Linked DNA regions of Homo sapiens: region 1 is linked to region 2. The links come from fine-mapping of genetic effects on gene expression. Tissue or cell type: cerebellum. Region 2 holds a variant in brackets; the other region holds the start of a gene. All regions are shown on one strand. Distances are between the middles of the regions.

Region 1 (4,234 bases), 24 kb after region 2:
TATTTATAGACTGTCTTGAAAAGCCTGAAGGGATCATATAATTTACTCCCTTAACTAAAATTTGAAAAAAGGAAAGAATTCAGTGAAATGGAAGAGAATTTCTAATTTGACTACTTTTAGACAAGTATTGAATACTTACTTCTGATAACTTTATGTATATTACCACAAGATCTCCGTAGTTAGGTGTGATATGCTCTTGTTTCCCTGTCTCCTCTCTTCTAAGATAATATAAATATTATTTGTTGTAGGACTTCTTTATGATAAGGTGCTTTGGACCTAAGTTTTCCAATGAAACTCATGAAAACCAATGTGGTTGGGATTTCTGCTAAATGATAACGTTTTGTTGTTTTTACATAAGATTGTCACTCTAGAAGTCTCATTATGCAGTGATTTCTAGGGAATTTCTTAAAGGCACTGTATCTTTTAAAATCCTTTGATGGCTTCACTAGTGCTTTGCATTTTACAGTTTGGACCACTGACCTGAGTCAAAGCTTTTGAGGTTTTAAGGTACCAGACATCTTTCATCTTTTTATCCTCTTGTTGAATCAGAAAAATGTCTTCATTTAGTCTGTTATAAAAATGTCTAGTATCTTTAGGATAAATTAGCCCTATCCTACAAGAGTGTTATACCTCGATTTAGTAGAGATTATTTTTCTTTAGTATGAATGAAATGACATCACAGCTTTTTTTTCTTAGTAACAATAGAAATCAGTCATTGAGCTTTTGTTCCTTTATATGAATAAAAATATTTAAAATGCTTATTAATTTTTCTTTGTTTTATCAAGTACTCTGGGAAACTAAGTTCATTTGAATATTGTTGGTAAACATTATCTGTGAATGGCTCTTATGCACCATTCAGGGCTCTCTTCATGCATTTTTTTCAAGCTATTAAATAAAACAAAATTGGGATAAAAATAAAGACAAAGATGAGACAAATTCAATGAAAAATGAATGGGAGTTTTGGATGCTTTATTATCTAGTTCTGAGTGACTTGTTTATGCAGCATAAGTAAAAACAAGCGTTTACCTCAGCTTAAATCTGCAAAAGCTTAAGGAAGGGTTGCAAGAAATTCAAATCCACTATCTCATTCACAGCACGAGCAGATTTAATTTCAGTAGACAAGATATAAATTAAGGTTATAAAATTAAATCTTACCTGGCAGTGGTTTGTTTGAAGCTCAGTAATTTGAACTCTGGCTGGAAATAGTAAGCTTCGAGACCCAAAATGCCTTCTCTACTTTCCTTTCATGTTTTATTTTGCCAGTGTTTTATTTCTTGCAGTGTCTTTATATCTGTATTCCTGATAATCCTGTAGCATTAGTTAGGATAGTATGCGGTAGATGAAGACTCCATTTGGATAGGATTATAGAACCAGAAGGGTGAGTTTTGCCTTTATCTGGTAACAGCAGTTGATCTGATCACAAACAATCTGAGTGTTGAGAACTTATTAAAGATTCATTGAATGCTTCAGCAATGAGAAATCCTGGTTGTTCCTATATGCATTTGACCCCCTGGAAAAGTTCTGCTTGTTCGTATTTCAGAATTACACACGCTTCCAAATCAAGCTGCTTTAAAAAACATTATCTGGACTAGAAGCATGGATGTTCTTGCACTCTTGCTTTCCTTTCTCCATACGAACTTTTCAGTCCATCAGCTTCCTTTCTGTAGAAGATGAAGGCATTTCTTCTGTCCTCCTCATGCTTTTGTAACCCATGCTTCTGGTACCCTGTTTTTTGAATAGTGAGGTAAAAATCCAGAAGGAAGTACGGCTTTATCATGTCTCTGGACGGTGAGCGTACTTGGCATGAATGAAGAGCTGATAGGAGCTATTCAAACCAGACAGCAAACTGATGGGATGACGCTGCCATACATAAAAAACTCATTAATTACTTCCCCTGCTGGACAGCAGTATATCCTGAAAGGAAGAAAGAAAGGAGCAGATGATGATATTCGTTTTGATAGGTGTTCTCTGTTTGAACAGCTTGTCATTGAGAAGAGAATCCAGGAAAAGCTGCAGCTTCAGAGTGTGATCAGGTAGAATGGGCAAGAGTTATTTGACAGACAGTTAAGTGACGTATTTTGGGAGGAAAAAGAGGGCTTAGCATGGAGGTAGCTGGAATAAGGTTCCAAAATGCTTTTGAAAATGTTCATTTTTTCCTGTTAGTCTTTTTGGCTAGAAGCTTTTTTTTTTTTTTTTTTTTTTTTTTAAGCTTTGCTAGGCATTATTCACAGACATGTTGCTGAGTTATTTTCTCATATGGTTTTCCCTAAAGATGGAAAATAATTTTTAAAAGTCTTTGAGATAGAAAGAGTATACTGTGAGTTTTAAATATTTGTAGCAGAGAAAAGGCTGCCTTTTTTTTTTTTCCTAAATGTATGCCTGTTTTTATACATCTTTTGGGCATATGCGTTTTGTTGCTTTGGAGTAAAGCATTATAAGTCCTCATTTGATACAAACTTTTAACAGGGTCTTCATTAAAGCTTTTCCTTAAGTTAGATGAAATCCATATTAGCTGTATAAAAGAATAGATTTTTAAATGTCAATTTCATAATTTTTGCACTTCAGTTTTTAAATTTAAAATTCAAATTTTTAAAACTGCACTTCAGTTTAAAATTTAAATTTTAAATTTAAACGTTTTTTCCCTGCCTGAGTTCTTTATGAGTGTATCTAGACAATATAATGTTTTTAAATTTTAAAAAATTATTATGGAACATTTCAAACTTACACAAAACTCTGAAAAATAATACAAAAATAATACATGAACCTCCAGAAACTCATTACCAAGATTCAACAATTGTCAGATTCAATTCTTTGCTAAAATATTTTAAAGCAAATCTCATTTCACCTATTTGTACTTTAGTATGTATATTTTTAAAGTATGGACACTTTTTCACATGACCCTGTGCCATTATCACACCTAACACATTGGCTATAATCCTCTGGAGTCATATAATATCCAGTTCATTTTAAATTCCTTGTGTCTCAGAAACTATGTCTTTATGTAGGTTTTTTCTGAGTGAGAATCCAGACAAAGTATACACTTTAATTGTTAGCCAATAGAATTTTAAACACTGACAGATGAACATGTATGAGAAAGAAGTGAATTTTAGTTTTATAGTGGTCTTTGACACACATTTGTAATAGGAATATTTATGCAAGAGAACATATCTTTAGAATATTTTCTTGAACTTTTCCCACTTAACATTGCATGATACTGAAAAGGATTGTAATTTCATATGGTAATGATTGGTCATTATATACTGGTCACTTCTATAATAAATACCCCAAGTTTTAAGCCACTGATTATTAAGCCATTTCAATGATTGAATGTGACTTAGAGTTCAGTGGAGATCCAAAATGAGAGAAGTAAAAATCTATCAAATGGGGCCATTGTGTTTATGAGGATCGATGACTATAATATTATATATGTTTTTCATTAATGTCAAGGTTTCTTCCCAATGGATTTTAATTTTTCTATGAAGTTTGAACTCCTAGCTCCTTTCTGGTAAAGCATAACATTTGGCTGTCCACTTAACTTTTCCAAGAATACAATAGCATGAGGTCCTGAAAATAACTTGTGTGCCACACCCTCACCTGTCGAAATTCATTCTCATTCAGGTTCTCTGTCTCTTCTCACTCTTATCTCATCTTTCAAATTGGCTGGATGAAAGAGAATGGGGGTGGTGAATATGGGGAGCCATTAAAGGGGTGTAGATGGAAATTATAATTTTCTGTTTCCATCTAAGCTCAAAGCCACTGCTGAGGACCGTGCTCCCATTTTTTATGGAGGGCAATAGAATACTTCTCTCCCAAGGTGCTCACTCTTGAGTATCTCTTGTCATACGTCATGTTATGGCATGAACATTTGGGAGCTTTGTGTTACACTTTATGTTCTCAAATTATACCTTGTCCTTTAAATCTTGCTGAATAAGGACTATATGTGCCAATCACTTTTTGAAAGCTTAGTAAATAGTTACTGATTATCACCATTTAATACAGATAAGCTGAATGGGAAAAGGTGAGCAAAAATGCTTCCATTCTCTTTCCAAGTTGTCTCTGAAATTTTTCTCAGTCATTTATAATACAATGTCAACATAGGAGAACACTTTGCAAATATGCAGGTTCTGCTGGAGAACTTTGTAGGGTGGGTGAAAAAGTGGTTATAGAGGGAACTGGAATAATAGATTATGAGTGTATTTTGGGTGCAAATATTTCATATCATTATCTCTCAGTA
Region 2 (4,234 bases):
CCCTTGCATGTGCAGTTCACAATAGGGTTTGGCTCCTATGAGAATCGAATGCTGCTGCTGATCTGACAGGAGGTGGCGCTCAGGCACTAATGCAAGCAGTAGGGAGTGGCTGTAAATAGAGAAGAATCTGCTCACTTGCCCACCACTCACCTCCTGCTATGCAGCCCGGTTCCTAACAAGCCACAGACCGGTACTGATCCATGGTCTGGGGGTGGGGGACCCCCTGTTCTAGAGAAACTCCAGCACGTGTGTGCCCAAATGTTCACAGCTGTATGTTCAGAAGAGCCTCAGATGGAAGCAACGCAAATATTCATTAATAGTGGAATGAATACTTAAATAAGTGGATGAATCTTTTCAACATAGCATGAAGTAAAAGAAACATGCCCACAGAATTCGTTAGTATGATTCTATTATATAAAGTTCAAACACAGGAAAAAAAAACCCTATTTTTTAAGGATGTATATTTAAATACTAAAGTGACAATCAAGGAAATGATTATTCCAGATATCATGATTGCGGTCACCTCTAGTGGGGAGATGAGGTGTAATGATTGAGGAGGGCCCGGTAGCAGGTGTGGTGTTGGCAGTATTCTATTTCCTGGCCTGGATGATTGTTATTTATGTTGGTTTAATAATTATTCTATAAGCTCATATGTATTATCAATTTTTTATTTTACAGATCTCTTTATAAAAGGAATAAAACTCTTTAAAAGTGGATTTCTAATGGTAAAATTTCTGTTACCACCATAGAGGTGGGAACCATTTTTGGAGAGGCAGCCCTTTCCAGCCTGCCTCCTTCCACTTGTGCCACACGGGCATTGCCTGCTCTGTTTGTTTCTGACCACTGACAGTGACACTCTCATTTTTATTAGTGGTGGATATGGGAAAGGGGACGGTTGTTCAAAGTCATACTTTTTCTGGTAAGATTGTGAGTCTTTAGGTGTCTTTGTAGAACTCTTTCTGTTAGTCTCTGAAAGAGATAATCATGCCTTTGGCTTTTCTTTTTGAACAGTATTCTTGGCAGTTCTAAGTTACGTTTCAAGAGCTTTGAAAATGGCACCCCACTCTTACCTTCAAACGTAAAAAGTAAGATCTATGAGAAATTTCTTCTGCCCTTCATTTTTTTTCCCCAAAAGTCAAATCATTGAATTCATGCAATATGCATTGTCTGTTCCTTTCAAGATGTCACAGATAGCCAGAGTTAGAAAAATGTTTAACAGTGTGAGCAGAATGCACTGGATCAATATTGAAGAAAACGTGGGGAAAATATTATGTGCAAGTCTGTAAACACTATTTTTAGAGATACAAATAAAAACGAAATAACCAGACTGCAGTTTGGTCAGTATAGTTGTTGTCTGTGCATATTTTTGCTTAAAACTATTATATATTTTCTTCAATTTAATTTTATGAAAAGCTATTTTGGGTAGGAAATTTTAATTGTAATGACATTGGAATTTCTTCCCTCCTCTGTTCCTTGTGCCAACAATTAGACTGAAGGGAAAAGAAAGGATATTACTCTAGCAGCCTGTACTTTTAAATTAAACCTCGAACCTTTTCTTTCCATGAGGCAACAAGACAGTTTTATTTGTCCTCATTGATTCAGCTCATTTTTTTCCCTCTTCTTGTATGGTATATAGTTTGTGCCAATATAGTCTCATATTACAAAGGCAATATAGTAGAAGAAGATTCTTCCCTTTGATATTTAAAACATCTGAAATAACACAAACAGAACTATAAATTAAAAAATTTGTTCTGGCTGACAGGGCTAAAAAAATTTTCAATTGGATAACCAAAAAAATAAAAACAAGGAAAACTCCGATAACAAAAAAACTTTTCCTTGTAGCTGAATATTGAATATTGGGCCTAATTTGATTTTCTTTTTTCTTTTTTTTTGAGACGGAGTCCTGATCTGTCGCGCAGGCTGGAGTGCAGTGGCGCAATCTCGGCTCACTGCAAGCTCCGCCCCCCGGGCTGACGCCATTCTCCTCCCTCAGCCTCCCGAGTAGCTGGGACTACAGGTGCCCGCCACCACGCCCAGCTAACTGTTTTGTATTTTTTTAGTAGAGACGGGGTTTCACCTTGTTAGCCAGGATGGTCTCAAATCTTCTGACTTCGTGATCCCCCTGCCTTGGCCTCCCAGAGTGCTGGGATTACAGGCGTGAACCATCGCGCC[C/T]GGCCTGATTTTCTTTTTAAAAACCTTCAAAAGATAAGAGCAGAATTTGTGTGCTAAACTGCTAGTCTCCAGCGCCATTTTGTGTTTTCTGTTGTTTTGAAGCAATTCTTTGTTTTTGCTGGTCCAGCTGCATCATTTTCATCATCCTGAACTATCATTTTCCTGCCCTGAAGTTGTGCATTTCCTTTAGCAGATCCAGCCTAGGCAGCTTTATTTCCCTTTCTTTTTCCTTTAAATCTATGACCTTTTGATTCTCATTTGTTTAGAGATTCTTGGTGATTTTGCATGAGTTTTTTTCAGTGTTTCTTTTTCTACCTTTCTGTCTAGTAATTTCCACATCTCTTCCTTGTTTCTTAGTCATAGGTTACAATTGCTGGCTGCTTCTGCTTTATTTAGTGTTTCTTTAGCTTTTTTCTTACATAGAATTAATCTCTCTTTTGCTCTACTGATAAAGTGTATCCATTTTATTTCCCCATGATTTGAGAAAAGGATATGTGGGTGCTTTCTACAGGTCACATTATCTAAGTCATCCCAAAATTTCAGCAAACATTCAATCTAGACATTTCATTTGAGCATCCTCAGCACTTCTGTTTTTTTTTTTTTAAAGTTTATTTTTGTGGGTCCGTAGTAGATATATATATTTACTGGGTATATGAGATATTTTGGTACAGGTATGCCATGCATAATAATCACATCATGGAAAATTGGGTATCCATCCTCTCAAGCATTTATCTTTTGCAGCACTTCCATTTTTCTTCTTGCTCTTGCTTAGCTCTGAATTTAGTTTATACTTTGTTTTGCTTCATTCTTGTTTTGCAAAATAATCCTCCTTGAAAAGTGTTAGAAGGTCTGTATTTTTATACCAGGGTTCAGGGCCAGGGTCTCTATAAACTTTTTATTGGATTTAATACCGTCAAACACTGCACGTGTTGATTGCTTAAATGCTTTGTGTAATGTTTTTCTCATTTGAATATTTAGTGCTTGTCCTTTATCTTCTAATCTTTAAAAGATTAGACATAAAATAATTATGTCATCAGGAGTTGCATCCATTGGGAAGCCTTTCATATGAATGGATCTGGTTTTACATCATTTTTTTCTACTCATCAGTTGCCAGAGGGACATTTTGTACTAATCAGAGGGAGGTTTGTTTGGAAAAATCTTCTGATTTTAGTTTTATCTGTATTTTCATTAGTTCTGCCTTTGATTTGTTCAGTGCTTCTATTATATTAAAATCTGTTGTTAGGTAATTTAACCTGTTGAATTTTGTTATTTCCAGAGGTATCCAGCTTTCATCCAATTTAGTCTGTTCCTTTTAAAAATTCGTCTTACGGCAAATTAAAGTCATCAAAATGATACTTGATTTGATGGTGGTAGGTTTCGGTCCCCAGAGCAGCCATTGTTTTCACTATCACCATTTTTGGCTGCTGTGGTTATCTTTCCGGTCCCAGGCCCCCAGAGCCGAGCCATAGGATCGCTAGCAGAGACTGTACTTTCAAGTTCACATGAAGGACTGTTTATTTTTAAATGTTTATTATTAGATAATTTAAGCTAGTTATACTGGACATGGCTTAATGAGAGAACGTTAGTGAATCTTTTCTGAGTTTAAGTTGTATTCCAGATACTCTTCTGGTTATCAAATGACTTATATTCCAGTTACTCTTCAGTTAGACAACTGGCTGCATCATCAAATCATCTGGGTACTACATTCTTTTCTTTTCTTTTTTTTTTCAGACAGGGTCTCACTCTGTCGCCCATGCTGGAGGGCAGTGGCGTGATCTCGGCTCACTGCAGCCTCTGCCTCCCAGGTTCTAGCGATTCTCCTGCCTTAGCCTCCTGAGTAGCTGGGACTATAGGCACGCACCTCAACGCCTGGCTAAGTTTTTTTTGTTTTGTTTTGTTTTTTTTTGAGACGGAGTCTCACCCTGTTGCCCAGTCTGGATTGCAACGATGCAATCTCGGCTCACTGCAACCTCTGCCTCCCAGGTTCAAGTGATTCTCCTGCCTCAGCCTCCTGAGTAGCTGGGATTATAGGCGCCCACCACCACGCCCGGCTAATTTTGTG

Direction of the effects. Alleles are on the strand shown, and positions count from the first base shown. SD is a standard deviation of normalised expression in the study named.
As copies of C replace T in region 2, the expression in cerebellum of the gene that starts at base 1,809 in region 1 goes up (moderate effect, 0.57 SD a copy in GTEx).

What was found. PIP is the estimated chance that this variant, and not a neighbour inherited with it, causes the effect.
Region 1: it holds the start of CHRM5, and the variant in region 2 is the best candidate, but not a certain one, in a credible set for the expression of CHRM5 in cerebellum (GTEx, PIP 0.86).

Annotation. Positions count from the first base shown.
Region 1 is chr15:33,966,072-33,970,305 of GRCh38, reverse strand. CHRM5 (cholinergic receptor muscarinic 5) reads right to left here and starts at 1,809. Exons shown (of 3, transcript NM_012125.4): 1 at 1,156-1,809. The region is part of intron 2 of AVEN (apoptosis and caspase activation inhibitor); the gene reads left to right.
Region 2 is chr15:33,990,048-33,994,281 of GRCh38, reverse strand. The region is part of intron 2 of AVEN (apoptosis and caspase activation inhibitor); the gene reads left to right. All of the region lies in intron 1 of CHRM5 (cholinergic receptor muscarinic 5), which reads right to left. Among named protein-coding and RNA genes, the nearest start is that of CHRM5, 24 kb to the right of the region's middle. The variant C/T (reference allele first, on the strand shown) is at 2,173.